2 separate regions of the Homo sapiens genome follow, and region 1 is linked to region 2. The links come from fine-mapping of genetic effects on gene expression. A gene starts in region 2. The other region holds a variant in brackets. All regions are shown on one strand. Distances are between the middles of the regions.

Region 1 (8,762 bases), 49 kb before region 2:
ATGTTGCTCAGGCTTGTCTCAAACTCCTGGCCTCAAGCAATCCTCCTGCCTTGGCCTCCCAAACCTGGGATTACAAGTGTGAACTACCACACCCAGCTCCCAGAGGAATCCTTATCAGGCACATGTTGTGTTCTGTCCTGCTCAAAACTCGGCCATGGCTCCCCAGTGCTCCCTGGGGAATGCCCGAGATTCTTTAATGGCTTTCAGACTTGGTTTGATCTCACCCCGATGCACCCCTCCACCATCACTTCCCATCTCCTCTCTTTATAATCCAGGCTGCAACCACTGTCTACCTGTCAGTTCCCTCAATGTGCCAAGCTCTCTTTTGCCTCCAAACTGTTGTATTATCTTCCCTTTGCCTACAATACTTTTCCCCCAGCCCTCTCATTCATGTATTTATTTATTTTACAGATGAGGTCTCACTCTGTTGCCCAGACTGGAGTGCAGTGGCACAATCATAGCTCATTGCAGCCTCCAGCTCCTGGGCTCAAGCAATCCTCCCGTCTCAGCCTCCCAAGTAACTGGGACTATAGGTGCACATCACCATGCCTGGCAAAGTTAAAAAAAAAAATTAAGAGATAGAGGCCGGGCCGGGCGCGGTGGCTCACGCCTGTAATCCCAGCACTTTGGGAGGCCGAGGCAGGTGGATCATGAGGTCAGGAGATCGAGACCATCCTGGCTAACAAGGTGAAACCCCGTCTCTACTAAAAATACAAAAAATTAGCCGGGCGCGGTAGCGGGCGCCTGTAGTCCCAGCTACTCGGGAGGCTGAGGCAGGAGAATGGCGTGAACCCGGGAAGCGGAGCTTGCAGTGAGCCGAGATTTCGCCACTGCAGTCCGCAGTCCAGCCTGGGCGACAGAGCGAGACTCCGTCTCAAAAAAAAAAAAAAAAAAAAAAAAAAAGAGATAGAGGCCGGGTGCAGTGGCTCATGCCTCTAATCCCAGCTCTTTGGGAGGTTGAGATGGGCGGATCACCTGAGGTCTGGATTTTGAGACCATTTTGGCCAACATGGTGAAACCCCATCTCTACTAAAAATACAAAAATTAGCCAGGCGTGATGTCAGATGCCTGTAATCCCAGCTACTAAGGAGGCCAAGGCAGGAGAATTGCTTGAACCTGGGAGGCAGAGGTTGCAGTGAGCCAAATCGCACCAATGAACTCCAGCCTAGGCGACAAGAGCAACACTCAGTCTCAAAAAATAAATAAATACATACATAAATAAAATAAAAATTAAGAGATGGGATCTTGCTATGTTGCCCAGGCTGGTCTCAAACTCCTGGCCTCAAACGATCCTCCCCCTTCAGCCTCCTGAGTCATTGAGATTACAGTTGAGAGCCACTGCACTCGGCTGTCCCCAACCCTCTCTCTGCTTGCCTCACTGTTATTCCTTCTTAAGTCTGCATCCAAATGCCCCTTCCACAATAAACCTTTCTGACAGCCCCGACAGGGTGGGTAAGGTGCTTCCACCAAGCTCCCACAGTTCCTGGCAGTTCAGACCACTCTACAATTTAATATTAAAAGGTCTTAAATTCCCACTTAACTTCAGTTCCAGGTACAAAACTTGTCTCTTCAAACAAGAACATATCCTTTAGCAAAAGTTGGAAATCATTTTAACGGACACATTTCCCTTATTGCCTTAGCTGCTGGGAACCTCTGAGCGAAGTTTAACGCTAACCTACATCGTAGAGAGACACCTGTTGCATCTCTGTGTGTAAAGTGTTAGTTCTATTTTAATGTTTGTTGAAATAGTGCCAGCTTTTCTTGGGCACTGTAAATCCCTCCGATTGGCTCTCTGCTGTGACTCCCTCATACCAAAATCAATGAGTTCTTCCACTGAATCTATCATCCAACTACTGCCCCCTCCAAACTCTTCCAACACACCCACTGGAACTCTCGTTGTCTTGTTAACAACCACTCCCCTTCCTCAGTTTCTCCCTTGAACATCTCTTCTACCCCATGTCCTTACCTAAACCCTAAGAAGCTCTAAGAACAATGCTTCCTCTGCAGCCCCTTCTACTATTTATTTATTTATTTATTTATTTAGAGACAGAGTCTTACTCTGTCACTCAGGCTGGAGTGCAATGGCATGATCTTGGCTCACTGCAACCTCTGCCTCCTGGGTTCAAGCGATTCTCCTGCCTCAGCCTCCCGAGTAGCTGGGATTACAAGGGTGTGCCACCACACCCGGCTAATTTTTGTATTTTTAGTAGAGATGGGGTTTCACCATGTTGGCCAGGCTGGTCTTGAACTCCTGACCTCAGGTGATCTGCCCGCCTCAGCCTCCCAAAGTGCTGGGATTACAGTCGTGAGCCACCATGGCCGGCCCCCCTTTATAATTCAGACTGCTCCTTTTCTAACATCCCACCTGCCTCTACACTGAGGGTTGAAAGCTGATTTCTCTATCAAGATTCTTTTGGGTGCAAGTATCTAAAATCCATTCAAACGAATCTAAGCACAAAGCAAATAAGGCAATAGTGAATGAAGCAATATTTGACAAAAGCAACAGCAAAAAAAAAAAAAAAAAAAAAAAAAAGCCCATTGTGGGTTTCATTTGAAAAATCCAAGAATTAAACTGGAGTTCAGGTATGGCTGGATCCAGGCACTCAAGTGCTGGTGTCAAAACTGCCTTTCACAATCGTTCATTTCTGCACAATCTCTTTTGCACTGAACCTCATCTCATAAAGCCTCTCCTCTCTTTGTGGCAGTGTGAGCCCCATCTGCTCCATCTGCCCAGCAATTCCAGCAGACATAGAAAATCCTCTTTCCTAATGGTTTCAGCAAATGTCTCAGGGTTGATTCTCATTGGGCTAAATTAGGTAACATGCCTTCCCTGAACCAATCACTGTGGCCAGGGAAGCAGACTCAACTGATTAGCCAGGTTTGGATCCTATGTCCATCCCTGGAGCTGGTGAAGGCAGAGCAGTGGCCAAGCCCTATTCAAATTAAATAGATGAAGAGGACAGAGAAGTGGTTTCCCAAAAGAAAACAGAGTGGGGAACTGGCGTGAGCCGGGGAGCCGTGTGGATTCCTGGAGGAAGAGTGTGCTAAGCTGTGGGAACAGCAAGTGCAAAGGCCCTAAGGTGAGCAACTTGCCTGGCAAGTTCAAGGTTCAACAAGGCCACTTCTGCTGTAGTATCCTCTTCCCTGCCAACCAAATCCAGAATAGTGGTCCAACACACACACACACACACACACACACACACACTCTGTTCCTTATCCAACTGTAATGCTTTCACCCTTGCTTGGTACCTTTGTACTTCTCCCTTCATAGTCGACTAGTTAAAAAAAAATACATTTCTCGGCTCTTTTTTGAAGTAGGTGTGATTGAGTTAAAACATATTTACTTGACATAAGCTTAATTATTCATCAATGGGAACCTGAAAAGGGAGTCAGAGAGGCCAAGAGGTTAGGGTGGAGTAGAGGGGGTAGGGAAGGTAAGCTGGGGTGCAGAGGGTGCAGACTGGAGGAATGGGGGCGAAGTGGGGTATGGGACTGGGGTGGCAGGGAGGGGCTGGGGAGAGAGAGAGAAGGGTAGGTGCCAGAGGGCCAAGGATTGTGGAACTGGGGTGGGGTTGGGAGTTGGGGGGTGGGGAGGAGATGTGGGGTACTCTGTGAATACCTTAGAAGGGATAGAGAAGGCAGGGCTAGGGGTTTGGAAGGGGTGGGATTGGAGGTCAGAGGGGCTCAACTGGGGTTAGGAAATGGAAAGGTGAGAAGAGGTGGGGGTTAGAGGCTGGGGACTGGGGTCCAGAGAGCAGAGTGAACTGAGTGGGTTCAGAAGAGTACTGGCGTTGGCACTTCAGAGGCTGGACTAGAGAAGGCGCGTTCAGCCGACGGTGCGGGATACACTGCCGAGGAAGTCCGCGGCGAGGGGCGTGGTTGGGGGGTGTGTATTACACGGTATCCCCCCCTTGCCTTTCCAAGTCTTTCCCTCTGGTTCCGCCTCCTTTTCAGGAGTGACATACCGTTGCCCAATCAGAGCCTCAGGCCTGGCGTGGCACAGCCAACCGCGCGGCGTGGGGAGGAGCTGGGGAGGGGGCTCGCAAGGCCGGGGAGGGGGCTAGGGGCCTCCGAGGGCTCCGGAGCGGCGACTGGCGAGCCATGGCGCTGGGGCTGCAGCGCGCAAGGTACTGAAGTTCGGGGGCAGGAGTTCTGGGAATTGGGGGGCTCTCCTCCTGGAGACCCCTGAGCTGGATTGTTGGGGGGGGTGGGGTTCGCGGGTGCGAGCCAAGAACGCCCCGGGGCGCGCAGTTGGAGGCACATCCCCACCGCACTCTCCACCCTTAGGGACTGCAGGGGTGGGGGATTCCCTACGTCTCTGGCTGCCCCGCCCCTCTGGCCAAGAGCGGCTTCGGGGTTCCCGATTTCTCGCTACCCAAGGCTCATTTACCCTCCTGGTTGGGGGTGGAACTTGGGATTCCTGATAAATTAGGGGTGATTGCATTTGAGCAGTCCCCAGGCTTCTGCGGGAGATATTCGCCCTCCACATATTGATCCCTCTGGCCTCTGAACCCCCCAAAATTGAGGGTATTCTTTGCCACCAGGTGCCTGGGATCCTAGGTGATATGGGATACCCCTAAATGGAGCCTTCCCACATATAGGGAGTCCCTTGGAATGGCATTCAGCTCCTGAGTTCAAGAGAGGAGAGATCTCCTCTAATAGTATGCTTCCTGACACAGTCTCCTAAACATTGGGTTTCCCTAGAAATGGGCAGAGGGGAGCCCCTTTCAGAAGCCGTCTGGGACCCTTCCCAAGAGACTTTTTGTATCCTTTCAAAAGCCAGAGTCACCCCCTTAAATAACAGGGAAACAAGCTGGACCCACTTCCCAAAGTCCAGCCCCTCATCTCACCCCTGCACCCCCATCCTGAGAGACAGGGGAGCCTCATCCAAGCTTTATTTTGGGGAGACTCCATGGCAGGGTGCTGTGAGCCTGCAGGCTGTGATGGGAACGCCCCCTGCCGCAGTACTCAGATGGGGTCATCCCGGGCAGAGGGTGGGTTTCTGGGTTCACTTGCCCAGCAGGTGCAGCTCTGCTGGAACACAGGGGAACCTGTGCCCTGGGGCCGCTGCCGGGGGGTTTTATCTGGCCATGTTCCCATGGGACCCTGGAAAATGTTCTAGGTCCTCAGCTTTCCCTGTCCAATGTGAGGCACCCAGTAAGCCTCACCCCCTTCCCTCCTCCCTGGCTTCTCAGGCCTGATTGGATCCATGCACACCCCATGTTTCTAACC[G/C]CCCCCATCCTCTCCCCTGTCCCCTACTCTATTCCAGGCCCTGGCTCTGGGCCTAACAAGGAACTCTATCCCACCCCTTTTGGGCCAGCTGTCGTTCCGCCCCTCTCAGCGCCCCCTCCTGGCTGGGTGGGGGCCCCTCTTGGCTGAGCTCGGGTGCCCCCCCTCCCCACCCAAGGCCGGCCCTTTCCTGTGGAGTCATCTCACCGCCGTGCGCACCCACTCGTAACTCGCACCCGGGTCCTGGCTGCACCGCATCCCCTCCTGCACCCCCTGGATGGCCCTTCAGCCAACGGGGGCCTGGGCGATGGTGAGTGGGCCCCCAACACCTCCTTTCCCCCTTCCCTTCCTCTAGCTGGGGCTGGCTGCCATCCCACTGTGGCCAAGGATGCTCTTGGGAAGTCCCTGGTGGGTACGGCTTGCAGCCCAGAGTGCCCAGTGAGGTAGTATTCCCGGAGAAGATAGGATTTTGGGGACCAGCACCCTACCAGATTACCATGTCCTTGAGAACAGGCAGAGTCGGGGGGCAGAGAGACTCCCCCAGACCCCCATGCCAAGTCCCTTTGCAAACCCAAACCCTGCCTCTGGTCTCTCAGGACACCTCTCTGCAATGCCAAAAGGCATCCTTGCCCAGCTACAACCTAAACCCCCACCCACCAAATCCTCTGTGCTTTTCGTAAGACGCCCCCCCCCAATACCCAGCTGGGTGTCAGAATAGAAAAGCCCAGAAGTAGCCCTGAATGTGGGCAGGGACTGCCTGCTTTTATTATGCCTTCCTCATGGGTGGCAAATTCTTCAGGGCAGGGAAGAGGTGAACTTCTCTCCTTCCTGGTTGGAGGGGGGCACTGGGCCCCAACCCCCATTCTCAGGCCTCACCCTGAGCCCGCCAGGCCCTGGCCCCACCCCCTGTTCTTGGCTGGAACACGGAGGAAGGGTGGCAGGGTTCCAGCTGCACGTCCCAAGCTGGGCAGAGTGCCAGGGGGCTGGACCAGGGCTGGGCATGGGGCCAGCTGGGGCGATCTGGAGGCAGCAGGGGTGTGACGGGGGAAGGGACCGAGGCTGCTAGGCAAAAGAGGGGTGGGGCAGGGGCCTCTTGGGTGGGGGCCACACCTGCCAAGAGCACAGGGCCCAAAGACAGGGTTCAAATCCCATCTCACCCACTTCCTGGTGGTGTGGAATTGTGTCAGTGACTGCCGCTCTGAGCCTCACTTTCAGATCCTGGAAATACGGGCAGGCCGGGTGCGGTGGCTCAGGCCTGTTATTCCAGCACTTTGGGAGGCTGAGGTGGGCGGATTGCTTGAGTTCAAGACCAGCCTGGGCAACATGGCAAAATCTCATCTATACTAGAAGTAAGCAAATTAGCCAGGCATGGTGGTGAGTGTCTGTAGTCCCAGCTACTCAGGAGGCTGAGGTGGGAGGATGGCTTGAGCCTGAGGCAGAGGTTGTAATGAGCCAAGATCAGGCCACTGCACTCCAGCCTGGACAACACAGCCGGACCTTGTCGCAAAAAAAAAAAAAATAGAAAAATAGAAAAAAAAAAGAAAACTGGGTATCACACTCCCTTTCCACCACCCCAGATCAAGATGAGGAGCCAGTAGTGAGGAAGCAGACGGTGGGGGGCGGGACACCCAACAGGTGTGCCACAAACTGAGCTCAAGTCAGAGTAGACAGACCTGGCTTGAATCCTGTCTCTGCTACTAAAAGCTGTGTGGCTTCAGTTTCATCACCTCTTTGGGCCTGCTTCCTCATCCGGAAAATGGGGAAAGTCATTGCAGGAACATGGTCGGATTCACTGAGAAGTGGTTGAACATAGTTCAGTGTCAATGGAGGGCGCTGGGTTACTTGGGCTGGGGATGCCATTGCTCCAAATCTCAGTTTCTGCCTCTTTAAAAGGAGAGATCACTTCTCCTGCTCAATAGGGTAGTAGTAAGGACTTAATGGGTTCTCTAGCTCCGTGAGTGTTCAACACACCAATGCTATCATTATTACAGTATCACTGTTATTTAATCCTCCTTTTAAGATGCTTGTGTAAAAACCATGTATGTAATTGCATGCACACACCACACTATGGGGCGTGTAGAGTAATCCACAGGTTACTGTAAAGCCCAAGAAGCTCCTAAGCCCATGCTTTCCATCTCTGATACGCACAGAGGGAGAACAGTAAGTCTAACCTTGGCCGGGCGCGGTGGCTCATGCCTGTAATCCCAACATTTTGGGAGTCCGAGGCAGACAGATCACCTGAGGTCAGGAGTTCGAGACCAGCCTGGCCAACATAGTGAAACCCTGTCTCTACTAAAAATACAAAAATTACCCAGGCATGGTGGCAGGAGCCTGTAATCCCAGCTACTCAGGAAGCTGAGGCAGGAGAATCGCTTGAAACTGGGAGGCAGAGGTGACAGTGAGCCAAGATCAAGCCACTGCACTCCAGCCTGGGCAACAGAGCAAGATTACGTTCACACAGCTTATAAGCAGTCACACAGCTTGTAAGTAGTGGAGCTTGTAAGTAGTAGCTTATAAGTAGTGGAGTTGATAAGTAGTAGAGTCAGGATTGGAACCCTGAGCCAGAGGAACTAGCCCCCAGTCTGTGTAATGGGAAAGACCCACACTTCCCAGTAGAACATCCAGAGGGCAGGCTGGGAGCTGGAAGGAGGGTCCCTCCGCAGCCACCAGCTGGCTCCTTCTATGGAAGAAGCAGCCCAGCCACAGAGGATTACAGAGCCCAGCTGCCTGGGAGGTGGGGCACTGGCCCCACCTCCCTGCCAGTTCCCACTCCCTGTTCCCTGTCGGGCCCCCAGCTCCGTGAGGCCCTCTCGCCCCCACCCTCTGGGCAGGAAGACAAACAGGGCTGGAACAGAACAGGACGGAATGTCCTCTCAGGCAGGCAGGACTGAGGCCCCTGCCCCCACCAGCCAGGAAGGAGGGGACGGGGACAGGGGCCGTATCTCCCCTGCTCCAACCCTCCATCCAAACTGCCCCCTTCTGTGCCTCCCTCCCTGCTGTACTGAGGATTTTATTTTCCTTCTGTCTCCAGACAGGAAAATATCCCCTTGCCCTGGGGGGTGGGGCCGCAGGTCTCTTGCCTGAGGCTGGGGTTGATGCCACCCCAGAAGCACCCTCTGCTCTTGAATTTAAGAAGGGACAGTGTCCCCTCCTAGAGGTTCTGCTTCCCTCGGATGGGTCCCAAGGAGGGGATGAGAAAAAGCCTGAAGACTGGAAACTCACCGCCCAGATTCAAATCCCAGCTCAGCCAGTTGTTGGCTTTGGGGCTTCTTGGGCAAGGACTTCACCTTTCAGAAGCTGTTTCCCCACTGTAAAGTGGAAGTTTAAAATGCCCCCCTCCGCCGGGCATGGTGGCTCACGCCTGTAATCCCAGCACTTTGGGAGGCTGAGGTGGGCAGATCACTTGAGGTCAAGAGTTCGAGAGCAGCCTGGCCAACATAGCGAAACCCCGTCTCTACTAAAAATACAAAAATTAGCCGGGCGTGGTGGCAGATGTCTGTAATCCCAGCTACTCGGGAGGCTGAGGCAGGAGA
Region 2 (8,762 bases):
CTTTTGTTTTTCCTTTTTTTTGTTAAAAAAAAAAAAATAGAGACGGGGTTTCACCATGTTGCCCAGGCTGGTCGCGAACTACTGAGCTCAAGCAATTCTCCCTCCTTGGCCTCACCAAAGTGCTGGGACTACAGGCATGAGCCACTGAGCCCAGCCAGGCTTTTTCTAATTCTATGCTTTATTCTATAAATTCCTCTGCTTCTAAGCCTCACAGCTTCCAACTGCCTTTGATTTCAGATCCAAATTCCTCTGATTCTATAATTCAGCCTCCAAATGCTTCTGATTCTGGAATCTAGACTTTTCCCTAAAGATTCCTCTGGTTCTGAATCTTATAACCTCAACTCCCTAATTCCAGACCCCAGCCTCCTAAATCTATTCTGGGCTTCCCACCCCACTGAACTTACCCAATTCCTTCTTTCAGTCTTAAGTTTTCCCATTCTAAACCCCTACCCTCTAGGCTGTGCTGCTCCTGGACTTCATGCCTCTCCATTCTCATTGCCTACAATCTCTGTGCCCCAGAACCCCCTCCACTTCCCACCCCAGCCCTCCAGACATGCACTTACCTTGACTTTACCCCACATGTTTGGGGCACCTGGGGCTCCCTCACCCCTTGGGTGGTTTGCAATCTGAAGACTTCTCCAGCCACACAGGCACATGCACAGGCACGGTGCTGTCTGCATATTGCCAGGTGGGGAGAGAAGCCAGGACCCCTCAGCTGTCTGCCACCATCTATGTGCCTCCCTTACCCCCCAGCTTTCTTTCTACAGATGGTGCTACTCTTGGTCTCCCACAGGAAAAGGCCTCCCCCCTTCTTAGCCCCATTTACCCCGTTTGTGGAAGGCACTGCTCGCTCTGTTTTGTCAGAGAGTGGCCTATCCAGATTGGTGCTATGGGGGGGTCTGACCCCTCCCTCCTCCCTCTGGAGGTGATGTGGGCCCTCAATGGAGGGAATTGTGCTGGGCTAGGGAAAGGGGAGGGACTAGACTGGCCACACTGGCTCTGAAACTCACCAATCTCTATACACCATAAAGACCTCACCTTGGTAGGCACCAGAGCTCTGCGTGTTGACTCATCTTTTGGATCTCCTCTGGGAGTGTGGGTGCACTGGTGGCTGAGTGTCTTTTTTTTTTTCCTTCCTTCCTTCCTTCCTTCCTTCCTTCCTTCCTTCCTTCCTTCCGCTCTCTCTCTTTCTTTTCTTTTTTTTTTTTTCTTGGAGTCTCACTCTGTTGCCCAGGCTGGAGTGCAGTGGCACAATCTCTGCTCACTGCAACCTCCACTACCCAGGTTCAAGCGATTCTCCTGCCTCCGTCTCCCAAGTAGCTGGGATTTCAGGCATGTGCCACCACACCCAGCTAATTTTTGTGTTTTTAATAGAGATGGGGTTTCACCACATTGGTCAGGCTGGTCTCGAACTCCTGAACTCAGGTAATCTGCCCGCCTCGGCCTCCCAAAGTGCTGGGATTGCAGGCATGAGCCACCATGCCAGGCCCTTTCTTTCTTTCGAGACAGGGTCTCACTATCTCACCCAAGCTGGAGTGCAGTGGTGTGATCACGGCTCACTGCAGCCTCCTGGGCTCAAGCAATCCTCCCATCTCACCCTTCCCGGTAGCTGGGACTACAGGTGCATGACACGAGGCCCAGCTAATTATTTTCATTTTTTTGTAGAGACAGAGCCTTACCATGTTGCCCAGGCTGGTCTCAAACTCCTGGGTTTAAGCGATCCTCCTGCCTCAGCCTCCCAAAGTTCTAGGATTATAGGCTTGAGCCACTGCACCAGCCCCATGTTACTTTCTGATTCTGTGTATCTGTATGTGTGTGTGTGTGTGCATGCACACGAGTGTGTGCACAGTGTCATTCTGTGTATGTGTATGGGTCTTTGTCACATTCTGTGAACCTGTGTTGCAGCAGGTGGGTGGGGTTGTGATTCCTTCTACAAGTGCATATTAGTATCTGGGTGAAGTGATTCTGCCTTATGTGTGTTTCTGGTTATTTTGGGTTTCTGTGTTTCTGAGTGTGGAAGGTGCTGTGATTTTTTTTTTTTTTTTTTGCCTATGTATGTCTGTATGATGTGATTCTGTGTACATGTGTGGGACTGCTTGATGCTATAATTCTGGGTACCAATGTGTGTGTGACATGATTGCCCATAGTTAAGTGAGCATGTGTGTGCAAGAGTGTGTGTCCATGGACTCATGTGCAGGTGGGTGTGTCTGTTGTCATGTACGTCACTCTCATAACCCCCCATACAGGGTTGCACATAGGAATCTCTTCAAGGGAAGAAAAACACTCTCAAGCCTTTGCACTTCCTATTCTTCTGCCTGAAATGCCTCTCTCCCTTCCCCTCTCCCCTCACTTGGTTACCTCCTACTCATATTTCACATCTTGGTTTAGGTAACAGCTACTCCAGGAAGCCTTCCCTGCCTGCTCCAATTGGGTAAAGTGCCCCTAAAAGCTCCCCTTGGAAGCCCCCTCCCATCACAGCACTAGGCACTCTGCCCAACTCTGAATATTTGTTTTGTTTTATTTGTTTTTTGAGACAGAGTCTCACTCTGTAGCCCAGGCTGTCGTGCAGTGGCGCGATCTCGGCTCACTGCAGCCTCCGCCTCCTAGGTTCAAGCAATTCTCCTGCCTCAACCTCCCTAATAACTGGGACTATAGGTGCGCACCATCATGCCCAGCTAAATTTTTGTATTTCTGGTAGTGACGGGGTTTTGCCATGTTGGCCAGGCTGGTCTTGAACTTCTGACCTCAAGTGATCTGCCTGCTTTGGCCTCCCAAAGTGCTTCGATTACAGGCATGAGCTACCATACCCAGCCCACTTTGAGTATTTGTGATGGAGTGAATATAAAAGTACTACTCTGTGTCAGGCTCCCTGACAAATGCTGTACTCATGTTGTCGAACTCTCCTCTAATCCTGTATGATGGGGATAATTATTATCCCCACTTTACAGAGGTTGAAACTGAGGCTTAGAAGAGGGTGATCACTTGCCCAAGGTCACAGTGTCAGGAAGGATTCCGCTGGACTCGAAACCAGAATTCAAATCCACTATGGCAGCTCCTTTTCCCCCAACCCCAAAACAAACAATACGAACAAACAAAAGAAAAATTTACTAACCCACCAAGATGGGCTCTGGCACCTACAGAGGCAGTAGAGTGGCAATGAAGGACATAGGAATTAGATGGGATTCCTGATCCTGGCTCTGTCACCTTCTTATGTTGTTGTGACCTTCGTCAAACACCTCTGCAAGTCTGTGTCTTTATCTGTAAAATGGAGATGATACTAATATCTGCCCTTTAGGGTGATTGTTGGTTGTGCTGGGGGCCAGTAGGAGAGATGGGGTTGGACTAACAAGAGGTTTGGGAGTGGGATAGATAGGTTTAGGAGTGTGCTTCCAGGAGGGGATCCAGAGCCTTACAGGACTTAGTGCTACATGAGGGCTTAGAAAGGACAGACTGGAAGCGTGTACGGCGGGTGGGGATTGGCAAAGGGGTGGAATCTGGATATTAGACTATTCAGCCTGAGGTTAAGACTATTCAGGGTCTCCTAATCAGGAGTTTGGGTTTTCTCCTAAGGGTGCTGGGGCCATGGAAGCCTGGGAGCGAGAGTGTGCCATGGTTTTATCATGTCTTAGAAAGATCCCTCGGCCGGGCACGGTGGCTCACGCCTGTAATCCCAGCACTTTGGGAGGCCGAGGCGGGCGGATAGCTTGAGGTCGGCAGTTCGAGGCCAGCCTGGCCAACGTGGTGAAACCCGTTTCTACTAAAATACAAAAATTAGCCGGGCATGGTGGCGGGCGCCTGTAATCCCAGCTACTTGGGAGGCTGAGGCAGAAGAATCGCTTAAACCGGGAGGCGGAGGTTGCAGTGAGCCTAGATGGCGCCACTGCACTCCAGCCTGGGCGACAGAGGGAGACTCCCTCTCAAAAAAAAAAAAAAAAAAAAAAAAATGTGAAGGGTAAACTGGAGGGAGGCAGAGTGCATGCAATCAATGCTGTGATCTCAGACAAGAGAATCTGTAAAAACACAAACAGGAGAGTTTATTTGAAGATTCAGGATTTGGGAAGCTGAACACAGGAAGAAAGGAGATGGTGCAACACACTTCTAAGCCTTGCTCAGGACTTGAAATCCAGAGTGCCTTCAGTTAAAAACTCAAACACTGACCCTCAAGGTTGGACCCTTTTTGGCTTGAGAAACCACTAATTTTTCAGAGATGGGTAACTGAGACCCTAGAGAGGAAGGGAAGATTTGTTCAAGGTCACACAGGTAGTCGACAATAGGGCTCGACGCCCGGGTCCGGCTCCGCGTAGGGCATGGCGCTGCCTTGCAAAACAGCCACACCCGCCAGCGACATTCACAACCCACCCCCCAACCCTAGAGGACAGCGGGGAAATCCCACTTTCAGAACCGAGAAACTTTTTACAGCCTTGGAACACGGTAACTTTGGGAGGAGAGGCCACACCAGGTCTGTTTCCCCGCGCGCCCCTTCTCTCATTCCCTATTGGCTCTCTCTACCAGGGGTACCGTCTGGGGAACCTCTGGTCACCTTGTCCTCCGCGCGCTCTGTGGCGAAAGGGACCTGCGCAGGCGCGTGAAGGGCGCCTTCAGGGCCCGCGCTTTACGACACTTGTGCGGCAGCGGCGGCGGCCACCCGGCGCTCCTTCGCGACGGTTCGGCCGGGTGCCGCTGGCGGCCGTTGCCAGGGTAGGGGTCGCTTTGCGGCATGGCGATGGCGGAGGGCGAGAGGACTGAGTGTGCTGAGCCCCCCCGGGACGAACCCCCGGCTGATGGAGCTCTGAAGCGGGCAGAGGAGCTCAAGACTCAGGCCAATGACTACTTCAAAGGTGCGCCCGCCTGGCAGGGAGGGTGGACAGTGGCCCAGGCTGAGGGGTGCCGGGCCCGCGCGGAACCATAGCAACGCGGAGCTGCAGCCTGGGCGCGGGGCAGACACTACCAAGTGACCGGGCGTGGGGAGGCCCAGGATGGCGCTGCCAAGGAGCGACATAGGGGGCTTCGGAGAGTGATACCTAGGAGTGGCGTGCGGAGCGGGTGCTACTCAGTGGAGAGACTGAGGAGGGCGCCACCAATTGTGGGGCGAGAGGGGGACTGGAATGAGGGCGCTACCAAACGTGAGGCCTGTAGAGGGCGCTACCAGGCAGTGACATGTGGTGGGGGAGTGATTGATGGCGCTACCAAATGGGGAGTCCTGGGGTGGGTGCCGCCAAGTGGGGGGTAGAGGGGGCACAGCCCCAATAGAGAAGGCAATCGTGGGGGTGGGGAATGGATCATTAGATGGGGGGAACAAGGAAGTAGGAGATTTGGGCTGACCCGAGGAAAAGGAATGTGATGGTGGGGGCCTTGGGAGTAAGGGTGGGGATCCTTAAGAATAGTATCACTTAGAATATTGAGAGTCAAGTGTGGGGCACCCATTCATTCATTAATTCAACAAATATTTATTGAGTACCTGTTATGTGCCAAGGACTGTGCTTGACTTTGGGGATATAGCAGTGAATGAGACAGATGTGGCCCTGTCCTTAGCTTGTAATTTTGCAGGTGAACCAGACATGAAAAAAAAAAAAACAAAAAAAAACCATGTAAATAAGTAAAATACTTAAATTGTGATGAGTGCTTTGAAAGCAAACCAGCAGTGTGATGAAGTAGAGAATAAGGGTTGGAGGCTACTTTAGATAGGGTAGTGGGGGAAGGCCTTACTGAGCAGGAGGCGTTTAAGCTGAAACTCACAGAGGGAGAACTGGAGAGGAGTGTTCCAGGGAGGTAAAGCAGCCTGTGCAAAGGCCCTGGGATGGGGAATGAAAGGGTACTGGCATGGCTGGGGCTTTGGCTACTTAGGGGGAGACCAATAACAAGATGAGATTAGGACAGAGGCCAGATCATGCAGGGTCTCCGTGAGTCATTACAAAGACCAGTTTGGAATTTTTTTTTTTTTTTTTTTTTTGAGACGGGAGTTTTGCTCTTTTTGCCCAGGCTAGAGTGCAATGGCGCAATCTCGGCTCACTGCAACCTCCGCCTCCCTGGTTCAAGCGATTCTCCTGCCTCAGCCTCCCGAGTAGCTGGGATTATAGACGCACACCACCATGCCCAGATAATTTTTGTACTTTTAGTAGAGATGGGGTTTCGCCATGTTGGCCAGGCTGGTGTCGAACCTCTGACCGCAGGTGATCCGCCCATCTCGGCCTCTCAAAGTGCTGGGATTACAGGCATGAGCCACCACGCCCAGCCCTACAAGAAGACACATTAAGTAAATGGGCCAGTCTGGACTGGAGAAGAATTTGGGTGTGATCAAACTATGGTTGGGAATGGATGAGATCATCTAGTAAGAGGGTCTAGAGGGGGGACTTAGGACAGAACCCAAATGGAAGAGGGTGAGGCTAAGGAGGAGCACTTAGTGAGGTGGAAAGGAAGCCAGGAAAGGTGTCGGGAAGGCTGAGAGAAGGGAGCGCTTCTAGAACAAGGAGCTGGTGCCTTTAGTCCGATGCTGCCAAGGCAAGCACTGGCCATTGGCTTTGGCTCCATGGATGCTGGTAGTGATGTTGACAGGAGCAGTTATTGGGGAGTGATGGGGGTGATGCAGCCAGGAGGTGCTGAAGAGTGAATGGGAGGGGAGGAAGTGGAGACAGCAAATGTTAAGTGTTAGGAGTATTGGTTCTGAAGGGGAGTGGAGAAATGGGGGAGGGTGGTAAGACGAGAACGTGCACAGGAGTTCGAGACCAACCTGGCCAACATGGTGAAACGACGTCTCTGCTGAAAAAATTAGTTGGGTGTGGTGGCACACACCTGTAGTCCCAGCTACTTGGGAGGCTGAGGCAGGAGAATTGCTTGATCCTTGGAGGCAGAGGCTGCAGTGAGCCAAGATCACACCACTGCATTCCAGCCTGGGCAACAGACTCCGTCTCAAGAAAAAAAAAAAGAGAGAAGATGCAGTGTCAGGGAAAGATGGATTTTTTGTAAGGATGGAAGAGAGTAGAGTCCAATAGAGATGGAGAATTGATTCTGCACAGGAGAGGGGGGACTTGCAGCAGCAAAACCCTGGAGAAGGCGGAGGTGGGAAGGGTCTGGAGCCCTGGAAGAGACTTGGCCTCCAACGGGAGCAGAAGCAAAGTGTGGAGAAGCTCGATCCGGTGGGAGCCGTGAGAGGGAGGTAGGACCAGTGAGAGATGAGGCCAGAGGTAGAACCTTGGAAGTCAGATTGGGGAATATGGGTGTCATCCTGGGGGTGGTCGATGCCATGGGAAGTTTCAAGAGCGGGGTGCTGTGGTTCAGTTAGTGTTCAGAAAAGATCCCTGGCTGCCATGCAGAGACTGGACTCCAGGGTAAGACAGGAAGGAGTCTAGATTAGTGGACAGGTGAGGAGGGGTGGTGATCGCCAGCCAGGCTGGAGGGACAGAAATAGATTCAAGAAGTGTTTCAGGGAGGAAGTGAGAGTGGCTGCCTGGAGAGAGGGTGGACGGTACTCCAGGCAGGGAAAAAAAAAACAAAAACAGGTGGCAAAGGCCCAAAGGTGAGCAGAGCCAGGCATGGAGGCCATAAGTGGGGCCACAGCGTAGGAGGCTGGAGGAGGTTATGATGAGTTTGCAGGGAGTAGATTGCGCAGGGCTGTAGGAAGGAGCCAGGGCTTTCTGGGGTGGGGTGGCGGTGGGGGGTGGGGCTCTGGGGAGCCCTGGGAGGTTCTGAGTAGGGAAAGGACAGGGTCAGGTTTGTGTTTTAGGAACACCCCTCTGGAGGGGCAGGACAAGAGGCTGCGAGGCCAGGTGGAGGCTGAGCCAGGAACCTGGGCAGGAGAGGCCAGACCAGGGCTGGGTGGGGCTGGAGGGTGAGAAGGGAGTGGCTGAATCTGAGAGATGTTCAGGAGGCTGACTTGGCAGAATAAGTGAAGTGACTACCGGGCTTTGGGGGCTGAGGGATGGAGAGGAGTCCAGGATGAGGCTGTCTCAGCCAGGTGATGGGGTGGAAGGTGGAATTCCCTGGGATGGGAGCAGCCTGCATGGGGGTTGCTGCTGAGGCCGCATCAGAATTCTGGGCCACAGCAGCCATTGGGAGGAGCCTGTTGCCCCCCAGGACCTGGGATCCAGGCTCTCAGGAGTCCTGGGGCTGGGCAGGCAGCCAGAGGGGCCTGGCACTGAGCTGGCACGGAGGAGAACGGCCCTGCTGGCCCAGGCCCCTTGCTGTCTGTCAGGCAGTAGCAGGCACAGAGCCCCAGGCTCCAGGGCTGTGGGAATAACAATAAAAAAGAATAATGACAGCTCACCTTAATTGAGCCTTGTGGCCAGGTACGCTGTGGGGTTTAATCCTCCCCGGGGGCTGGGAGATGGCTAGGAGTGGCCCTGTTTGTTTTATAAAGGAAGCAAGGCTCGGAGAAGTGAAAAAACCACTCGCCCAAGGTCAGAGTGTGTGAGCAGCAGGGCCCGGATATCCCCTTCCTCGCCACGTGCTTGGCTCCCACGTTCAGGTTCCTCCCAGAGCTGTACTGGCCCTGTTGAGGAGAAGAGGGGCCCCAGCAGGGAGAAGAGAGGTCCCAGGGCTCAGAGGACTGTCCCCTCAACTGTGGCTGGTTGCTCTGTAAGTTCAGGCCTATTCCAGAAATCCTGGGGGCAGAGCCTCGTCCCCCGTCTCATGTCTGAGTCTAAGGGAAGTGTCTCAACTGTCTTCCCCTCTCTGTGGGCCTCAGTGCCCCGCTTCTGTAAAATGGGGGGTGGGGGCTTATGCTTAACCCCTAAGGAGGCTCCAGGTATAAGAGCTTGTGGGGAGGA

Evidence for each region.
Region 1: its variant is fine-mapped to the expression of PPP5C in aorta (GTEx, PIP above 0.99).

The regions. Positions count from the first base shown.
Region 1 is chr19:46,292,976-46,301,737 of GRCh38, forward strand. It overlaps HIF3A (hypoxia inducible factor 3 subunit alpha), which reads left to right and starts at 4,067. Exons shown (of 15, transcript NM_152795.4): 1 at 4,067-4,127. The coding sequence starts at 4,102. The variant G/C (reference allele first, on the strand shown) is at 5,233.
Region 2 is chr19:46,342,380-46,351,141 of GRCh38, forward strand. It overlaps PPP5C (protein phosphatase 5 catalytic subunit), which reads left to right and starts at 4,708. Exons shown (of 13, transcript NM_006247.4): 1 at 4,708-4,838. The coding sequence starts at 4,718. It overlaps HIF3A (hypoxia inducible factor 3 subunit alpha), which reads left to right. Exons shown (of 15, transcript NM_152795.4): 15 at 1-1,054. RefSeq lists enhancers at 4,546-4,725, 4,826-4,955, 7,202-7,261, 8,082-8,321, 8,368-8,762 and a silencer at 7,622-7,681.